2 separate regions of the Homo sapiens genome follow, and region 2 is linked to region 1. A link means that fine-mapping ties the variant in region 1 to the plasma level of a protein whose gene starts in the linked region. Region 1 holds a variant in brackets. A gene starts in the other region. All regions are shown on their forward strands.

Region 1 (4,395 bases):
GAATTATGTTTTTGAAGACTTGGACAATATGAATAAGGACTCATATTAACCACTGTACGAAAGGCGCACACTCCATTGCAATGACAAAGCCTTCGGAAAACTACTTGTCACTTGCAGTGATCCATTGCAAATACAGTTTAATATATAATTTATATCTACCAGCTGGTGAGAGCAGAAAGGGAGCGATTCCACTCTATTTCTCTTTTAAAAGAGAGAGAGAAAGAAAGAGAGAGAGAGAGAGAGAGAAAGGCTGGCAATGTAGGATGTCACTAACGATAGTAAAATAGCTCAGCAAACAGTTCAATAAATGGTTCAATACTTGTGATACTATCCAAACAAAGACTCGAAGCCATTAATTTTAAAAAGTTCTGTGAATCTTCTTTGAACAGTAAATATTTAATCACGGCAATATGTAAGCTGCCCTCTCATATTTTATCTCCTAACCAGAACCGTGTAGTGAACCTGGCCTTTAATAACTTTGACCAGAGCGATATTTTGCCATTTTTCTCCTGCCATCAAATTATGAAGTGTGTCCAATCCAGCATGTTGCTATTTGCTACCTAATGCGCTCCTATTGATGCCTAAATATAGCGCTGGACAAATGAGCTCCGTAGGTGTGAACACTAAATAATGCCCAAACCCCACTTAAAAATACATATATACATGTGTGTATTAAATATATCAAATGATACATTTAAAATTCTAACTATATTTAATAACTACACTACATGTTTTTTAAGTACTATATAATTATATTATATAGTATTAAAGAAATTAAAGCTTCCGGGCATAGACTTTCAGAGCCAAGCAGTAAGAACGTGGAAATTTGCGCCTCAAAGCTTTCTAGCCAGCGTCTTTTTTTTTCCAGGCACACTCACTAGTTAGGAATGTCATCTTCGGCCAAGTTTAATAATTGATGAGGAGCCTCGCAGGTCTCAAAAGCTTATACAACCAAACAACTAATATTTATTTATTTTATTATATATTTTCTTTTAATTCAGGAAATACCCACAGCGATTACAATTCTAATTTGCAGGGAATCCTGTTGGCAGAAAAATCAAACAATTAACAATCCACCTTCTAAACAGACTACTGGTAACGGACGACTTCAGAGGCAGCCAGTCAGACACGAGCGATTGCGCTCCCCCCGCGCCTGGGCTGCCTTGGAGTTCAGATGAAAACAAGTTCAGGAAGTTGATTTGATGGGCAGCACCGACCAAACCACGACTTATGAGGCTTGCAGATGCATGTCAGAATTAGGCTGCTATGAAATACGGCGTGATCTGTTCCACCTTCTGTAAGTTTCTCAGAAGTGAGGACTCTACTCTCAGAAACAGCGTCCTCCCTGCCACAGCCATCAATGTGCATGTGGTCGACACACGCATTCACACACACTCACGGCTCATTAAAATGCGTTGTGAACTTGGCGTAATCCCCAGGATGTTTCTTCATTAGCTATTTTGGATGGCCTCTACCGCACACACATTTCAAGAGCCACGTTCCTTTAATTCTCAAATCAATACACTCTTAGCAATTGCAAGTGGCCAGAAAGGTCACCCTCGAACCCCTTCGGTCCTAGAAGAGTGGCAGAGGAGGGATAGGAAAGGACCCGTGCAAGATCACACAGCGAGAAGATGAAAGCAGTTCATCCTCAGACCTCTCTCTGCTCCATCAAAAGATAAAGAGACATTTGCTAAATGTCATTAGTAGTTCCTATATGTAAGTGGAAGAGCAAAGACAAATAAGACACAGTTATTATTTTTCAAGAGCTCATAGTCTAAGAGTGAGACTCAACCTTAAAAATAGGCTACAACCCAAGACATCAAATTTCAAGTGGGCCAGAAAAGGCACAGGGGTGGAGCGGGCAGAGCTAACTCCAGCCAAGGGGCTGGAGTACTGAGTACTGAGTACAAGGTCACTCTCCGTGGATACGTTGTAGATTGAGTGGAAGACACATGCAGACCTGGCTATTGTCAAGGAGAACCTGCCTTCCACATAGGTAGAGGAATGGACCACCAACCTCGGATGGAAATTCTGGTAGCCTTTTCCCATAAATACAGCATCCTTCTCTCTCTCTTGGCCTCTTCCTATGAACCACCTGATGAAAAAGGCAGTGATGTCAAGCAACTTCTGAGCTCACAAGAGAGATGCAAGGCCGGT[G/A]GCATCTGTGTAACAAATAAGCCTGTGTCCCAAGTCCCTCCCAGATCATCATCTTTCACAGTAGCTTCCAAAAAGAAACATGTTGCTATCCCATTGGAAAGGGCAAATGAGGTCCCAAGCCACTTACCCAAGGAGAATAAAAGGTGGAGTGGGCAAACCACCCAACCCAAGCACAGAGCTCTTTCCACTAATCCCCATGGGCACACCCTTGAGAAACTCTAGCCAGACTTGCTGTACTCGCCAAGTCACGCCCCAGCCCCTACAGTGTGCAGGGCTCTGCGGAAGGAAACACGTAAGAGTCCTGCACTCATAAGCTTGTGGTTTGCTTGGGAGACGTGTGAGCCTAAAGTTAACTATCTCTATTATATTTATTTTACATGTAGATAATATTTATATGCATGGAATATTTTCTTACATTATGTATGTGTGTATATACACAAGTGTGTGTGTGTGTGTGTGTGTATATATATATATATATATAGAAAGAGAGAGGTAGGGATGGAATAGGCATGGATGTGGAACGTGTGTATGGCAGTAGTGGTGGGAAGTAGGAGCAGGTCAGGACGCTCAGGGCACACGGATCTGACCACACATGGATCACCCAGCAGTGACACAGATACTCAGGTGATCAAACCGGTCTGGCAGAGTAGTGATGAGGTAAATGAAACCAGGAAAAGAAACCACAGAGCAAGAAGAAGGGGCAGCATCACACCTCACCTTTTCTGGGATGCAACCCCACTTCTGCTCAGGGTCCTCTCTCAGACCCACCTGCCCCAGCACTTCCAGCCCTCAGCAACATTTCTGTTTCCCTGAACTCTTGTAACACTTGGCGTTGCTTCCACAGAACTCAGCTCTGTCTTGCACGTTGTCTTCCCAGAAGTAAACACATATGTGGGCATCTCATGTCTGGGTCTCCTCTTTCTAGCGTGTGCTCTAGGGGAACACTCAGTAGTCTGGCAATGGCCTAGGATGGCCCAGACCAACCAATAGAGTCTCTACCGTGAATCTTTTTTTTTTCTTTTTTTTTTTGAGACGGAGTCTCACTCTGTTGCCTGGGCTGAAGTGCAATGGCACGATCTCGGCTCACTGCAACCTCCACCTGCCAGGTTCAAGCGATCCTCCTGCCTCAGCCTCCTGAGTAGCTGGGATTACAGGTGCCCACCACTATGCCCAGCTAATTTTTTTTTTTTTTATTTTTAGTAGAGACGGGGTTTCACCATGTTAGCAAGGCTGGTCTCGAACTCTTGACCTCGCGATTCGCCTGCCTCGGCCTCCAACTCTTGACCTCGTGATTCACCTGCCTAGGCCTCCCAAAGTGCTGGGATTATAGGCGTGAGCCACCGTGCTCAGTCTACTGTGAATCTTAATGCTAGCACCTGCTGCCAAGTCACTTGGCCTCTCCCGCTGTCACCTACCTCTTCTGTAAAATGGGTGAGTAATACAATCTACCTCACAGGGTGCTACAAGACAGTAGACAGAGCTCAGCCCATTGTGCAGCACACAGTAAGCACCCGACAAAAGAGAGTGGGTAACCCTGGCAGCTGCAACAACTGCACAGGTGATCGCAGCTAGTCCTCAGTTTCCCCATTTGTAGAATGGGTACTAAGGTGTCAACTCTGCAGAAGTTTCATGTGGAGAGAATAATGTACACAAGGAGCTTGGCACATAGTAGATGCTAAAATTATTTTGTCTATGAGCAGCAGGTCTATATATTTTATATCCCCAGAGAGCTTTGCTGAATGTAATAGACACTCCATAAACACTTGTTGATTTACTGAGAAAAGAATTCCTTGTACTAATTACATGCATTCACACTGATGCAAACTGACTCTACCTGTCCATTTAAAGAGAAAGAAACAAAGCATTAAGCTTCCTTCACGGCAAAGGAGCATCAAATCAACAAGCATCACATTGCAGAGCTCTGTCTGGCCAGGTCTTGGGATTCTCAATTGCACATTTGTGTATATGCTTCAGTCAGGAGGACTATTCAGTCTGCCTCACATCATTTTTAAAAGTTTGCAGGTTTTCAGGCTCCAAAAGTGTCATTATATTTGGAATGGAATTTTGCCTCCTCCACCAGTAATGTAATAAAATCTCTGAGTCTGAGAAAAAGTCAGGAAAGGTCAGATGTCAACCAGGTTAACATTAAAATTGTTAGAAAACAGGAACCGTAATTTGGGGATTGAAAAAGAGGCAGAATTCATGTTGTAAGTGCAAGTGATCTGGAAATAGATG
Region 2 (4,395 bases), not on the chromosome of region 1:
TGCTTAGAAAGGGAATAGGAAGAAGAGGGGTGGAGGGGGTTGGAGATGATTGTGTCTAGTGGGAACAGGCAGGGGGATAGTGCACAGAGTTCACAATGGGACAACGAGCCTGCCGAGGCTGCACTGCCGGCCTGGCTGGGTGACCTTGAGCCTATCTGGGCCTGTGAGCTCACCATGCAAAGGAGCTGGACCACAGAATTCTGAGTCCTTTCTAGCTCTAAACACTGTGGCCCTAAGTATCTATATGTGAAACAAAATTGTCCTGACATTTGTCTCTGGGTACTGAACTATTAGGAGATTTTGATTTTTTCATCTCCATTTTGCAAACAGTCTGTACTAAGATTACACTACTGTGTTTCTGTTTTGTGTGTATTCAGAAGCACAAAAAGTCTGTGGTTCTAGAAAGGAAATAGAAAAGTTCTTAAAAAAAAAAAAGTGGGGAAGTGAAACAAATGTTAAAGTCAGAGGAGAAAGAAAGGCCCAACCGGAGGCCCCAAATCCACCCAGAGCCCAGAAGCCCGGGTTTCCCACCGACCGGCTGCGGTCTTTGTCAGCTCTCTGGCGCTATCTGCTGTCCTTCTCGATAACAACCGTTTAATTTGGTTTGCAAAATTGCTCTGACGCAAATCCACCGTGAACACTGACGGGGTCACATTCAGCATAAAAATCGCATTCTGTTTACAGGAAAATCTGGCCCCATACTTGCTCCCATATTCACTTTTGACTTTGCCTTGCAGTACTAACTGTAACAGGGACACCTGAGCAAGTCCCTTCTGTATAAGGCCCAAAATGGTCACCCAATACCAATGAGTCTCTTGCTTTGGAAAGCCCAGGAATGCACCTCCAGCCCCTTCTGCGCAGCGCTCGGACACCATGTAGAGGAGAAGGCACTCTGCAGAACTCGCCCTCAGCCCGCACCACCTGTCCAGGGGACTGGCTGCGTGTCAATGTGTCTCTGCTCCCGGGGTTCCCGCAGATCTTTAACTTATTGGCCTTTGGGCTAATTCAGTCCTTCAAGCATTCCTCGCCCAACATGCCAGGAAGTCTTCTCACGTGTCTTCCACCCCATACCTACCAGTTCTGTTTTCCCACTACCCGATGAAAGTGTAACCGCCCCCCGGCGCCCCCCCCCCCCACCACCACACACACACCCTGTTGGTCCCATCCTCAGGGCGTGGTGGTCCAGGTGAACGCTTGCCCTCTTTTTGAGCTGAACCTCCCCACAGAGGCTGTCAGCAAAGACTGCTTTGCTGTCCAAGGCCGGCCTTTAGGTACAGGACACTATGCATGTCCAGCGAGGCTTGTTGAAGCCACATCTGTCATAGATATTGATGGGAAAAGCATTTTCCTTCTAACACATCTCATTCCAATTCTAAAAGGCACCTCTGAAGCCTTGCTGAACTTCATCAAGATTTTCACGTGGTTTCCTTAGTAAAGTGTGATGAGAAGGTCCATCCTTCTCAGGATGAAGGAGTGGTCCAGGAAGCCCTGATTGGTCTGCCGGGGAGGGAAGGGCTGCCTTATTTGGAGACCTGCAGGAATGCCACCTCCCCCGGCAGCTCCTATATAGCTGGGCGGACCTGGCTGCCAAGAGGGTGTGCTGGGGGACTGTGCAGCTCGAGGCTCCAGAGGCACACTCCAGAGAGAGCCAAGGTACGTGGGGGGCCACTTCTGTGGTCAGGACTGCTGGTTTCTTATCAAGGCTCGATCCCAGATTGAAAATCATGCAATGATTTCTTTACTCCCACACCTGGGGATGGGTCCCAAGTTCAGGGTAGACTTGCGAGGATACCCAGTCATCACTGGGCTTGCCTTTCTCTAAGTTGGTGCTATAATAAAATGCTACTTTAGGGTTTGTGGGTTGGGATTTTGTTTTGCCTTTAAGCTTCTGCCTATGAAAACTAATCTCTTTCTCAAGAATGCTGTGCTTTTATTTTTTTTATTTGACTCACCTGAAATGATCTATTATGCCATTAATCTTATTTAAGATTTCTCCTTAAAAAAGGAATGATGTGGAGTATGGCCCTATTTAGGAGACTAATGAATATTTGCTTCATGCTTGGATCTCTTTGGAGAAAGTCAGTCTGAGTTCACTGTGCTCAGGAGGCAGAGAGAGTGGGGTGAGGGGGTCCAGATGCTCATAGCCACCCTGGGACAAAGACGAGGCGATGTCTACAAGCAAGGAAAGGTCAGTGAGGCCTCTTTGCAGGCTTCTAGAGATGACTGGATGTGCTTCTAGAGATCACTTCAGCTGTGTTTTGCCTTTTTTTTTTAATATAAGGAGCAATGTGGCATCAGAGTTGAACATTTTATCAGAGGAACATTAGCCACTTTTAGGGAAGCTGCAGCAGGGTGGTGGAGGGTGTGTGAGGGGCGAAACAAGCTCCCTGTCAGCCTCCTCCAGCTCTGGGGCCCCATGGCCTCACAGTAAGTCTTTGCCTAGGAGACAGCTTAGGCAAGCTCCGGTATGGGAACTCCTTCCATTTCCCTAATCCACACAGGCAAAGACCCAGGTGCTAGAATGCCCTGACAGTCGGCCTTGGGAAGTGGATTTCCTTGATGGCTATTGTAGATTCAGGAGCCGAATGTGACAGGCAACCTTAAGGTGTGGGGTGAGGGGCTTTTCCATGACATCAGTGGCAGCCCTTCGGATGTCCCAGGGCCACCTTGACCCGGGACCCTCCTGGTGTTCCCCCAGGCCCTCCTGTCTTCCCTTTCATCTCGTTTTCTCCGAAATTCCTCAAGGGCCCTGCCCTTTGCCCTTTGCCCAGCTCAGGGGGCATCATACCCAGTGAGTGAAAAGCACAGTGTGTGAGCACTGTCTTCTCCTGAAACCCAGATGGGCAGTGGGGCATGGCTAGTGGACACATGCAGTGCAGCATTAGACAGAGCCCAGTGCAGGTCTGCCACCTCCCCGCTGTGCAGCCTTGGGCAAATTACTTAACTTCTCTGAATCCCAGGACAACATTTATAACATGGGGATAATAATGTACCTACTCTATGTGAGAATTAAGTTAGGCAATGTCAGAGAAGAGCTTAACACGGTGGCAGGCATGAAGAAAGTATGCAATAAAAAGCCAGTAGGATAAGCAGATGGTCACACTGTCCCCCAGGGGTGAGATTGGAAAGGATGCCTGGAGCACACTTGACCCCTGGACATAGGGGAGGCAGGGGTCCCTTTGCTACGTTTCCATCTTTCCCTTCCTTCCTCCTCCTCTCTCTCTCATTACTGCAAAGCCCTTTAGGATCAGCAGCCAGTGAATTCCTCAGAATGGATGGCAGAATGCCCCCAAGACAGTGCCAGCTCAGAGCAATAAAGAACAAAGAGGGGAGATTGAAAGTACAATCTAAAGTCGGCACAGTGGCTCGTGCCTGTAATCTCAGCACTTTGGGAGGCTGAGGTGGGAGGATCACTTGAGCCTGGGCAACATAGTGAGACCCCGTTTCTACAACATGTATTTAAAAATTAGCTGGGTGTGGTAGTGTGTGCCTGTAGTCCCAGCTACTCCGGAGGCTGAGGCAAGAGGATTGCTTGAGCCCAGGAGTTCAGGGCTGCAATGAGCTATGATCATGCCACTGCACTCCAGCCTGGGCAACAGAGTGAGATCCTGTCTCTAAAATATGTGTGTGTGTGTGTGTGTGTGTGTGTGTGTGTGTGTATGTGTGTGTGTCTGTACATATACGTATATATATATGTGTGTATATATACATATATGTGTGTATATATGTATATATGTGTGTGTATATACGTGTATATATACATATATATGTGTATATATATACGTGTATACACACACACACACACACACACATATAGTCCATGCCCACCAGCATTTGATTCCAACTCTTCTATTGTATTTTCCTCCCAGGGATTTCTTGATTTGAAAGACTTGGGAGTATCAAAGAAAACCTACATGTATTAAGTCACCACTCCTTTATTTTCCCATGCGTATTCAAAGCCACTATAATTGCCCTTTGCCATTCTTACCTGTCTCGGAAACCGGGACCAGAGCCCTGAGTGAATGTAATCCTAGCAATAGCAAAGGAGCTCGGTGTTTGAGTTAACCCTGCACAACCCAAACATGGGGAAACAATTATGCTTTTGAGACCACATAAATAGCACAAGGATGCGATTCCTTCCTTAAAATCTCCTGCACTTGGGAGGGGGCAGGGGAGCCCAGGCAGGCCTGGTGGGGAGCTGACCCACCGCCGTTTCTCTGGCAGGTTCTGACGCGATGAGGAAGCACCTGAGCTGGTGGTGGCTGGCCACTGTCTGCATGCTGCTCTTCAGCCACCTCTCTGCGGTCCAGACGAGGGGCATCAAGCACAGAATCAAGTGGAACCGGAAGGCCCTGCCCAGCACTGCCCAGATCACTGAGGCCCAGGTGGCTGAGA

Direction of the effects. Positions count from the first base shown, and alleles are read on the strand shown. Strength reflects both the effect of a copy and how common the allele is.
With allele A in place of G in region 1, the plasma level of the protein whose gene starts at base 1,593 in region 2 is higher (weak association).

The links. A credible set is the group of variants that fine-mapping cannot tell apart. PIP is the chance, under the fine-mapping model, that this variant and not a neighbour inherited with it causes the effect. The UK Biobank Pharma Proteomics Project read protein levels with antibody pairs (Olink). The fine-mapping took linkage between variants from a reference panel, not from the people measured, so its PIPs are less certain.
Region 2: PRND starts here. The variant in region 1 is the best candidate, but not a certain one, in a credible set for the plasma level of the PRND protein (UK Biobank, PIP 0.56).

What each region holds. Positions count from the first base shown.
Region 1 is chr10:129,034,359-129,038,753 of GRCh38, forward strand. LOC124902559 (a long non-coding RNA gene) reads right to left here and starts at 2,395. Exons shown (of 2, transcript XR_007062390.1): 1 at 2,288-2,395; 2 at 961-2,098. RefSeq lists an enhancer at 1-553. The variant G/A (reference allele first, on the strand shown) is at 2,161.
Region 2 is chr20:4,720,317-4,724,711 of GRCh38, forward strand. PRND (prion like protein doppel) reads left to right here and starts at 1,593. Exons shown (of 2, transcript NM_012409.4): 1 at 1,593-1,653; 2 at 4,225-4,395. The coding sequence starts at 4,236. RefSeq lists an enhancer at 296-515.